Linked DNA regions of Homo sapiens. The protein of the gene in region 1 interacts with the protein of each later gene in a biochemical or structural test. Each region holds a gene or a part of one and is shown in the gene's direction. Other genes may lie near its edges. The genes, in order: PDZRN4, CCRL2 and EVI5.

The links.
Region 2: the proteins of PDZRN4 (region 1) and CCRL2 interact in a test that uses a peptide from one of them, tested with the Homo sapiens proteins (one large-scale study listed by IntAct).
Region 3: the proteins of PDZRN4 (region 1) and EVI5 interact in a test that uses a peptide from one of them, tested with the Homo sapiens proteins (one large-scale study listed by IntAct).

What each region holds. Positions count from the first base shown.
Region 1 is NC_000012.12:41,191,167-41,194,820, forward strand, and holds part of PDZRN4 (PDZ domain-containing RING finger protein 4), read left to right. Parts: intron 1-291; coding exon 292-378; intron 379-2,914; coding exon 2,915-3,022; intron 3,023-3,654.
Region 2 is NC_000003.12:46,405,638-46,409,391, forward strand, and holds the start of CCRL2 (C-C chemokine receptor-like 2), read left to right. Parts: upstream 1-1,621; 5' UTR 1,622-1,865; intron 1,866-1,977; exon of another isoform or gene 1,978-2,033; coding exon of another isoform or gene 2,034-2,057; intron 2,058-2,430; coding exon of another isoform or gene 2,431-2,442; coding exon 2,443-3,477; 3' UTR 3,478-3,754. UniProt on the Homo sapiens protein: Receptor for CCL19 and chemerin/RARRES2.
Region 3 is NC_000001.11:92,512,526-92,516,179, reverse strand, and holds part of EVI5 (ecotropic viral integration site 5 protein homolog), read left to right. Parts: intron 1-1,135; coding exon of another isoform or gene 1,136-1,234; intron 1,235-2,209; coding exon 2,210-2,524; 3' UTR 2,525-3,654. UniProt on the Homo sapiens protein: Functions as a regulator of cell cycle progression by stabilizing the FBXO5 protein and promoting cyclin-A accumulation during interphase. May play a role in cytokinesis.

The sequences.
Region 1 (3,654 bases):
TAGATACTGCATTAGGATAAAAGAGCTTCCTGTCTCAAAATGCAAAGCCATTTAGTAATTTTTGAAAATAGGGCTTTTTCCCCTCACATGCACAGTTGTTCTTTTTCAAATACATACTTGCAAAGTAAGTATAGGAAAATGTCAACCTTCTGCCACATTCAACCATCCTTAATTTTAAAGTTTTCCTCTTTTCACATGTCAGTTAACTTACAGTACATAAAAACTTATTGTAGGATTTATTTTTCTTTTATATTTTTACCTGGTTAAGTCATTTTATACATTTTTTTCTAGGATGGAGAGCATAAGCCATTCACTATTGTGTTAGAAAGAGAAAATGACACTTTGGGATTCAATATTATAGGAGGTCGACCAAATCAGGTAAAACACCTTGTTAATGCATTACTCGTTACTTATAAAATAAGCATTAATAAGCATTACTCATTGCTTATAAAATAATAGAGGACTTAGCTTTTGTTTGTGGATTTTGAGTAAGAAAAACAAGTGGTTTAATCTTTAAAATTATACTTGTGATCAAATATCAGATTTCTTAATGCAAATATTCCAGTACATACCCAGATTTTATTTATTTATTTATTTATTTATTTATTTATTTATTTATTTTGTTTGTTTGTTTGAGACAGAGTCTTGCTCTGTTGCCCAGGCTAGAGTGCAGTGGCACGATCTCAGCTCACTGCAACCTCTTCCTCCTGGGTTCAAGCAATTCTCCTGCCTCAGCCTCCCAAATAGCTGGGATTACAGGCTCCTGCCACCACACCCGGCTAATTTTTTGTATTTTTAGTAGAGACAGGGTTTCACATGTTGGCCAGGCTCGTTTTGAACTCCTCACCCCAAGTGATCCACCTCACGGTCTCCCAAAGTGCTAGGATTACAGGTGTGAGCCACCATGCCTGGCTCTGATTTTATTATTTTTTAATTTTTAAAAATTATTTTCTTTTTGAGTTGGAGTATCACTCTGCAGCCCAGGCTGGAGTGCAGTAGCGTGATCTCAGCTCAATGCAACCACTGCCTCTGGTTCAATTGATTCTCCTGCCTCAACCACCCAAGTAGCTGGGATTATAGGCGTGTGCCACCACGCCCAGCTAATTTTTGTATTTGTAGCAGAGAAAATACAAAATGTTGGCAAAGCTGGTCTCGAACTCCTAATCTCAAGTGATCCACCTCCCTCACCTCCCAAAGTGCTGGGATTACAGGCTTGAGCCACTGCACCTGGCCTTTATTTTTGAGAAAAACAAAAAACAACAGCTAGCAAACTTGGTTCTCTTTGCTACTTTAAAAGAAGAAAAGGAAAGTACATTTCACATTTTATCTAAATTTTATTGTCCTTTTGGCAAATTTCTTGAATAAACCTATTTCACAATACCATGTGTAGGCAATTTCTATTTGATAATATTAGGCAATTGTATTGCCTGCTTAAACCTATTTATTAAGTGCAATTACTCAGTTTGAAGATGCTAATACAGACTAGGAAGAAAATTATATTGAATGAATGAATGAACAGTTGAAACAAGGGATGATTGATTTCAATAGGAAGTACCATGTTAAAGAAAAACAGTTGATTAGAAATATTTTTGGCTCCCCAAACCGAGTTCTTTGTTTGATTGCATGAATAATATTCTTCATGTTGATGTCAATTGTTTTCAAAATGCATATTTTAAACTTATAGAATATACTGTAGTTGCAAAGTTCTTTTATATCTTTGAATTCCTGTGTCAACTTAATTTTCACCGTAACTGGAAAAAGGTGGTTAAGTTTTAAAAAATGATGTTCTTTAATTTTTCTCAATAAACTGCCATGAAATTTTTGCATCCTGCATTGCAGATGTTGTACAAGGAAACTGTCTTAGTGTTGTTGGCCATATGCTCTGTTTAGGTAAGGATGGCAGTGACATATTTCTTCCTTGTTTTTAGTATTTTGAAAACTTAGCAACTAATGACTGCTGTGCTTCTCTTTTTAAAACAGTCCTCATTTATTAAGATGAAAGCCTTTTCATCATAGCATTTTCGTTATCATTTTCCCTAAGGAATATTTTTATAGATTCTATTTTGGTATTTGACATTTAGATGACATCGGGCCTTTTTAAAAAGTCTCTTAAAATTCATGATAAGGACAGCTAAAGAGAAATAATTTTATTTAACCTGTCATGAAGTCAAATGACATTTAAAATTATATAATGTATTATTATAGGATGTTGGATATTTTCCCCTAAATAAGCTTTGACTTCTTGTGACTGGCTAAAATGTCCTATTTTTACCATATTGGCTATGTTTGAGGTTTAACTAATCATGAGTCAGACTGCACCTGGAAATATGTAACGATGAGTTTGCATGGGTTCCCTTTTGCATAGGTTCCCTTGCAGTTTAGATGTGATCTTTTGGGATTTTACACTTGAGTAAGCTACCAGTGTCTCTTGTGAATAGACACAACTAGAGCTATGTTTCTAAATCTGGCACATCAAAAAGCTAAATTACATTTCTAAACTCTACCACATCTCAAACCAGTTATACAGTGGGAACCAGATATATGTTTTTTTCCTTCTTTAACCTTATCACCCTTTTACTTGCTGTCTCTCTTTAGAAGTGAGATGTTTTATAAATAATACTTAAAAGCCAGTTTATTTCACCTTGTACATGCCCTTTCCCATAGCTTTTTTATGTGAACTCAAAAATGTGAAGTAAATAGATAATCTTGTCAGAGACCCTGGACTCATTCATTAAAACTGCCACCTTGATTAATGACTAGTTGGTGTTAAGTAAGTTAAAATTCTGTTCCAAATCCCCAGCTAAGAGAGTTGCAGGTTTACAGAGGATTGGTAATGTTACATTTGGTAAATTGTCCCTAATAATATTTAAATTTTGCTTACATCTTTCTTCTGCTAATGATTTTTTAAAAATAGAATAATCAGGAAGGAACATCGACTGAAGGAATTTACGTTTCAAAAATTTTAGAAAATGGACCTGCTGACAGAGCAGATGGCCTGGAGATTCATGACAAAATCATGGAGGTAAGACAATGATAAAACATGTATATGATCCATGCAAGAAAGATTGGGATATTTTAAGTTTTCAAATTTACCACTTTACCTTGGTGTGGTGCTTATTAGAATATACATTCTTAGTAGCAGTAAAGGCATTATCATTTTTACTTTCTTACAAAAAATGTAAAAGTCACTGGGAGAGGTGGCTCATGCCTATAATCCCAGCACTTTTGGTGGCTGAGGCAGGAGCATCACGTGAGCTTAGGAGTTCGAGACCTGACTGGGCAACATTGTGAGACTTCATCTCTACCAAAAAACAAAACAAAAAAATTAGCTGGGCATGGTGGCACATACCTATGGTCCCAGCTACTCAGGAGGCTGAGGTGGGTGGATCACTCGATGTTAAACCCAGGAGGTCAAGGCTGTGGTGAGCTGTGTGTAGGCCACTGCTCTCTAGCCTAGGCAACAGAGCAAGACGCTGCCTCCAAAAAGAAGTAAAACTCTATTATGATTCTATATAATTCGTTAGATATTGTGATGAAAGAATAAAATGCCTGAAGTTTTCAAATGTGTTAATGAATACCTCTGTTTTAATAACCTGTGTTTCCCATGAACTATGATGTCACTTGCTTGATTATTAAAGGATTAATTATTATAAC
Region 2 (3,754 bases), on another chromosome or scaffold:
TCACTCACTCACAGGAGACCCACACAAGAGAGGAGAGGGCACTTACAGCTTAGGTTCCCACCAGCACCAACTCCTCTGCCATCAAACATCATTGTGTTTCTCTTTCTGCCTTGTCTGTCGGCACACGTGGAGTTAAATTTAATGCTCAATCACATATTTGTCTGGGCTCTTTCTGTGTTTATTTTTCTCTTAATAGTTCTCTCTCCTCCCTTCCTCTCCCCGCCCCTCCTCCTCCTTCTTCTTTTTTTTTTCCAGAGACAGTGTCTCGCTCTGCCACCCAGGCCAGAGTGCAGAGTGGCATGATCATGGCTCACCGCAGCCTCCAACTCCTGGGCTCACGTGAACATCCCACCTTGGCCTCTGGAATGTCTGGGATTACAGGCACTTGCCACTGCATCTGGCTAATTTTTATATTGTTTATAGATCCGGGATCTCACTATGTTGCCCAGGCTGGCCTCAAACTCCTGGGCTCAAGCGACCCTCCCACCTCATACTTCTGAGTAGCTGGGGCTGTAGGAATGCGCCTCAGTGCCAGGCTAGTTTCTTAATTTTCTATTTCTATTTTGACAGGTACAAATTTTGTATTCAATCCTACCTCAGACACATCTTTGGTGGGAAAAGGATGTCATTTAATCAATATATAAATTCTAAGCAAATAGGTCTGATCCCCAAATTAGGTTAGTCACAGCTGCTGAGTCGTTGACCCAAGAGAAGCTCATCTAGATTTTTTCATTATTTTCAAGTTCCTCTTCTCGGTTCGTCCTTCTTCCAGACCGTGCCCTCCCCGTCCCACTCTCTTCCCACAGCCTCCCCTCCCCACAGCCTCCTCCCACCATTCCAAATCTGGGCTGTTCTCTCAATTTCCTTCTCTCTGGACTCAAACCTACCCTAGCCCCCAGCCTCAGTTTGGGGTTAAACTTGTCCTCCTCACATTCTCTCCCACCCAACTTGATGTCGCCTCTGTGTCATCACCACGGGATTTTCCTCCTCTGGGTTCTCCTTTTCCGAGTGGGGTCAGCTCCCCCATGAGTCACAGCACCAATCACTTCTGGCTGCTTGCAAACCCCTTTGCTTTCCTCAGTGTTGACACCCAGGGCAGCCCTATGCTCACTGCCGCTGAGACCCCACCTCTGCCCCTGGCCTTTTCCCAGCTGACATCACCCTGTGGCTTCCATTTTCCTAAAATTCTCTTTTGAGGCCTCAGTCTTAACCAAAGCACACAGTGCCCCTCAAAAATGACAATAAAAACCCAAACACACCGTGACTGTCATGGCAGGTTCCTGGTCCCCGTATTGAATCAGCGGGTGGGTTTCTGCGAACACTGGTGAGAGGCCGCATTAGAGGGTCAGGACCCTCAGGTCTGGACTCGTGGTCACCACATACCTTCCTCCCTGCTGACAGTAGCTGGTACCTGTTACCTACTCAGAGTGTCACATGCCACAAGCCAGAGCGTCTTGGCAGTTCTCAGCACCTTGACATCACTTCCTTGCTACCACTCAGAGCGGCAGTGACACAGTTCCCTTATCTCAGAAGGCCAGAAGACGGCTGTCAAAGGTCACAGGGAAATCAAAGGCGGGGTACAGGGCCAGAGGGAGGAGGAAACAACTTCCCGGTTGCTTTCAGACGCTTCAGAGATCCTCTGGAGGCCTGGGGGAGCTTTTGAGTACTTTATTTCAGTTGGTCCCTGAGCTCGGTGAGTGGGGCGGGTAGAGCCACCAGGGGAATCAACAGTGGTTTCTCGTGCCCCTCAGGGTCAGGAGCAGTCTGATCAAAAGGAGGGCATCCACTGTCCGGGGCCATTCCCACAGCTCCCGGATGCTGGGTCTGGAGGCTGCGCCCTTCCCCTGCAGGAGCTCAGCCCAGTGGTAAGTCATCTGTGTGTCATCTATGTATTTAACCCCTTATGGCCATGTTGATGCTGAGCATGGTTTCACTTTTGCAAACATTTATTTATACCCTTCGAGAGAAAAACGTCTCAGCTGTCACAGGAAGCTGCTTCGGGGGGTGAGCAAACTTTTTAAAATGCAGAAATTATGATCTACACCCGTTTCTTAAAAGTAAGCCATCGTACTTGGTTCTCTTTAATTATATATTTTCTTACATATTGTGTTCATGTAGGCAAGTCCTGTTTCTGCTAAAAGAAGGTAAGTTCTACCAAGGCGGTGTCATGCCAGCTTTATTTCCCGTGGCACCTGGCACACTGCTAAGCACTTACATGCTTAACAACTAGATTGGGAATGGTGCTGCTCTGGGGAAGTGGGCACACGTTAAAGAAATGTTTATTTCAGTCTTCTGAAATAGGGAATTACTCTGGCTAAAATGTAGCTCCAGAAAGGGAAAGTGGGGCTGTATGAATCCAGGTCCAGTTTGTTGTTTCCTCCAGGATAAGGCAGCTGTCGGAGGGGAAAATCATCTCCCATTTCTCCACAGGGCAGTCTGAAGATGGCCAATTACACGCTGGCACCAGAGGATGAATATGATGTCCTCATAGAAGGTGAACTGGAGAGCGATGAGGCAGAGCAATGTGACAAGTATGACGCCCAGGCACTCTCAGCCCAGCTGGTGCCATCACTCTGCTCTGCTGTGTTTGTGATCGGTGTCCTGGACAATCTCCTGGTTGTGCTTATCCTGGTAAAATATAAAGGACTCAAACGCGTGGAAAATATCTATCTTCTAAACTTGGCAGTTTCTAACTTGTGTTTCTTGCTTACCCTGCCCTTCTGGGCTCATGCTGGGGGCGATCCCATGTGTAAAATTCTCATTGGACTGTACTTCGTGGGCCTGTACAGTGAGACATTTTTCAATTGCCTTCTGACTGTGCAAAGGTACCTAGTGTTTTTGCACAAGGGAAACTTTTTCTCAGCCAGGAGGAGGGTGCCCTGTGGCATCATTACAAGTGTCCTGGCATGGGTAACAGCCATTCTGGCCACTTTGCCTGAATTCGTGGTTTATAAACCTCAGATGGAAGACCAGAAATACAAGTGTGCATTTAGCAGAACTCCCTTCCTGCCAGCTGATGAGACATTCTGGAAGCATTTTCTGACTTTAAAAATGAACATTTCGGTTCTTGTCCTCCCCCTATTTATTTTTACATTTCTCTATGTGCAAATGAGAAAAACACTAAGGTTCAGGGAGCAGAGGTATAGCCTTTTCAAGCTTGTTTTTGCCATAATGGTAGTCTTCCTTCTGATGTGGGCGCCCTACAATATTGCATTTTTCCTGTCCACTTTCAAAGAACACTTCTCCCTGAGTGACTGCAAGAGCAGCTACAATCTGGACAAAAGTGTTCACATCACTAAACTCATCGCCACCACCCACTGCTGCATCAACCCTCTCCTGTATGCGTTTCTTGATGGGACATTTAGCAAATACCTCTGCCGCTGTTTCCATCTGCGTAGTAACACCCCACTTCAACCCAGGGGGCAGTCTGCACAAGGCACATCGAGGGAAGAACCTGACCATTCCACCGAAGTGTAAACTAGCATCCACCAAATGCAAGAAGAATAAACATGGATTTTCATCTTTCTGCATTATTTCATGTAAATTTTCTACACATTTGTATACAAAATCGGATACAGGAAGAAAAGGGAGAGGTGAGCTAACATTTGCTAAGCACTGAATTTGTCTCAGGCACCGTGCAAGGCTCTTTACAAACGTGAGCTCCTTCGCCTCCTACCACTTGTCCATAGTGTGGATAGGACTAGTCTCATTTCTCTGAGAAGAAAACTAAGGCGCGGAAATTTGTCTAAGATCA
Region 3 (3,654 bases), on another chromosome or scaffold:
AAGGAAGAGATTAACTGACTTAATTTAACACTTGGAGCTATAAATTGTGTGTTGCAATATTGCGATAGGATGTTGCATCAGAACGTGGCAGTTGTAACAATGCAGTGGGTATCATAACCTTGAGGAGGCCTTTGTGGTGCTATATGCCCTTTTCCTAAAGATTCAACTCCAAGTATAGATCCCTCTGTTCTGCCAAGGAGAATGGTATTATTTAAATTACGTTGTACCTCACTATAAATTTGTCCACTTGGTCTAGGGCACAGGAATATAGTTGAAGGTCTGCTTGGGCCAGACATCATTGTTCTGAGTCCCTGCATCCCTGCTGATTCTTGTTGTCATATACAAGCAGGGAAGTGCTGAGGTTTCTTCACTTCTTCCTGGAAGTCTTTCAGGAAAGCTGGGAGGTATTATGGTGAGGCTGTAATGTCTTTATTCTCAGGACCGTTAGTTTTGAAAGTGTATGTAATATTTCCTGAATATTTCACATTGCCTTTATCTAAAGAATTGAAAGATTGTGACTAGGAGTTTGTCCCTGAGAAACAAGGATGAGGGTAGGAGACGTGGAGCATATTTTAGCAAGATTCTTAATAGTCAGAGTAGATATTTGGTAGCTAATTCTTGTTTTTGGTTTTGGTTTTTTACTCTTCCACTTTATTGTAGGAGAAAATTCATGGTGCATGAGAGAAATGAAATAAGTGACAGAATGTCAAAATCAAACTTTAAAACATAAACTCTTGAGGGCAGAGCTGATGACTTAATTGTATGTGAGTAGAACTGGTACTGTCATGGTTGTGGATTTGGGAGTTTGAGGAAACTTGAGCAAAGAAGTGGCAGATGATGAAAATAAATCAGTTTTAATTCTGATAAAACTGGTTTTGGAAAATGTGGTTTAGATTTAAATGTGGCACAATTTTTTCAATACTAAACTCTAGAATTAGTCAGACTTGCCCACCCAGTAACAGGTAGCTTTTGACCTCCTTAAGCCTCCTTATGTGAGGGTCTTGTACTATAAAACTCCAGGGATTGAGGACTAGAGCCTCATTCTAAAAGATGGGAAGAAAGGGAAAAGAGATGAGTGAGGCATACCATTCCTCTCTCCTCCTCCCCACTAAGAGAAGCCTCACCTTCTCCCCAGGGGGAGTTGGGGAGAGAAGGCAGAAATGTTATACCGGACTGGCACTCCCCCCATGCAGAAGGAAACCTCATGAGTGGGAAGCAGCATTCCTCTCCCACAGTAAGTGACGGTGATATGCTGGCCTTTGGGCTATTATAACAGGATGGAGACTCTTAGCAAAGTTTTAATGATTTATAAATCATTTTCATCATTTACAGAACTATGGAGACATTCTCTCAAGATAGTGTGTGTGATAGTATGGTTTTTAAGTTCATACCTTCTAGAAATACCAGCAAAATATTTACAGATAAACTGATAGGATGTCTGGGGTTTACCTCAAAATTATCCAGGAACAAGAGGTGTGTAATGTAAAAAGATTGTCCATGATGGGTGTTACTTGTTGAAATTAGGTGATGGGTACATGGAGTCCATTATATTATCTCTAGTATAATGAAGATTTAGTTTGAATCTAAACTTTGCTACTAGCTATATATGTCCTTAGCAAGTTACTCTTCCTGAGTCTCCATTTCCTAATCTGTAGAATGAGAAAAGTAAATACTAAAATCTATCACATAGGACGGTTGTTATTATTCAATTAAAGTAAGTTACAGGCCAGGTGTGGTGGCTCACACCTGTAATCCCAACACTTTGGGAGACTGAGGCAGGCAGATTGCTTGAGCCCAGGAGTTTGAGACCAGCCTGGGCAACATGGTGAAACCCCGTGTCTACAAAAAATACAAAAAAATTAGCCAGGCATGGTGACACACGCCTGTAGTCCCAGCTACTCAGGAGGCTGAGGTGGGAGAATCGCTTAAGCCTGGGAGGCGGAGGTTGCAGTGAGCCGAGATCGCACCACTGCACTCCAGCCTGGGTGACAAAGTGAGACTGAGACCTGTCTCAAAAAAAATAAAATAAAAATAATTATGAGCCCATTATATATAACACATAGAAGGCACTCAAAAATTAGTAACTATGATTATACCTGTAAATAGAAAAATAATAAGGCATCTTCTTCCTTAAACATGGAATGTTTGCTTTTTGGCGTGTGTGTGTTTCCCCCATTTGACTGTATTAACTTGGATTTTGTTTTAACAGCTCAGGTGCCTAAAAGGCCAGAGGGGCTTCTCAGGCCAACCTCCTTTTGATGGAATCCACATTGTCAACCATTTAATAGGAGATGATGAATCATTCCATTCCTCCGATGAAGATTTTATAGATAATTCCTTACAGGAAACTGGTGTTGGTTTTCCTTTGCACGGAAAATCTGGTTCGATGTCTTTGGACCCCGCAGTGGCAGATGGTAGTGAGAGCGAAACAGAAGACAGTGTGCTGGAGACCAGAGAGAGCAACCAAGTGGTTCAAAAGGAGCGGCCCCCGAGAAGAAGAGAGTCGTATTCAACCACTGTCTGACCATCACTGTGACCTAGACTATGGATTTATTTAAGGGATCAGTTATCATATGATTAGGGCTTTTTGGAAATAATTTGTTTCATATGTACATATATATATATATATATATATATATATATATATATATATATATATATATATATATTTTACAGTCTTATCTGCCTTTTTATCTTTGCCAAATCTTTACCACTGATTTACCATTGCCATAAAGTAGACTGGTATATGGTTAATGTGTAAAACAAGGTTCTAACAGTATTACTGAATATTAATGTTTCTTGTTTAGAAAATGCAACTATATCTATATGTGGGAACCATTCTGAAGTTCAAAACTATGGAAAATTGAATTTTCTTCAGACAAAACTGCTCTTGTGCAATATTTTATGCTCAGTGAGCAAATTGTGTATTTATGTTTATCAATTTGTTCTCAAGGTGGCTGTCTACAGACATTTGACCAAGACATACATCTGATTTACCTTGTGTTTTTTTTTTTATTGTTGTTTTTTTTTTTAAGACAGAGATTCAGTCTGTCACCCAGGCTGGAGTGCTGTGGTGTGATCTTAGCTCACTGCAACCTCCGCCTCCCAGGTTCAAGCAATTTTCCTGCCTCAGCCTCCCGAGTACCTGGGACTATATGTGCGCACCACCACGCCTGGCTAATTTTTTGTATTTTTAGTAGAGATGGGGTTTCACCATGTTGGCTGGGCTGGTCTCGAACTCCTAACCTCAAGTGATCCACCCGCCTCAGCCTCCCAAAGTGCTGGGATTACAGGTGTGAGCCACTGCACCCAGCCTACCTTGTCTGTTTGTGTCTGGGAGGTTTTTTTTTTCTATTTTTATTTTTTCATGAAAATTATTGGTGGGCCACTGAAAGTCCCCACACACAAAGCCTTTATTCTATATAATTTTATAAACACAAATTCATGATTATCTGTTTTGAGAGTTTTAAGTTTTGTTTTAATGTTTAACTTTTATGTGCATATGATGCTTCCATGTGTTGGTTACTAGAGTAGTAGGTTAACTACAGACATACTGTTTTGTTTGTACATATTTATAAATCTGTACCACCTAACATTGAACATCATTTTATATGAAGAACATACATGTTGCAAAATGACTGCTTTCAGCATCTA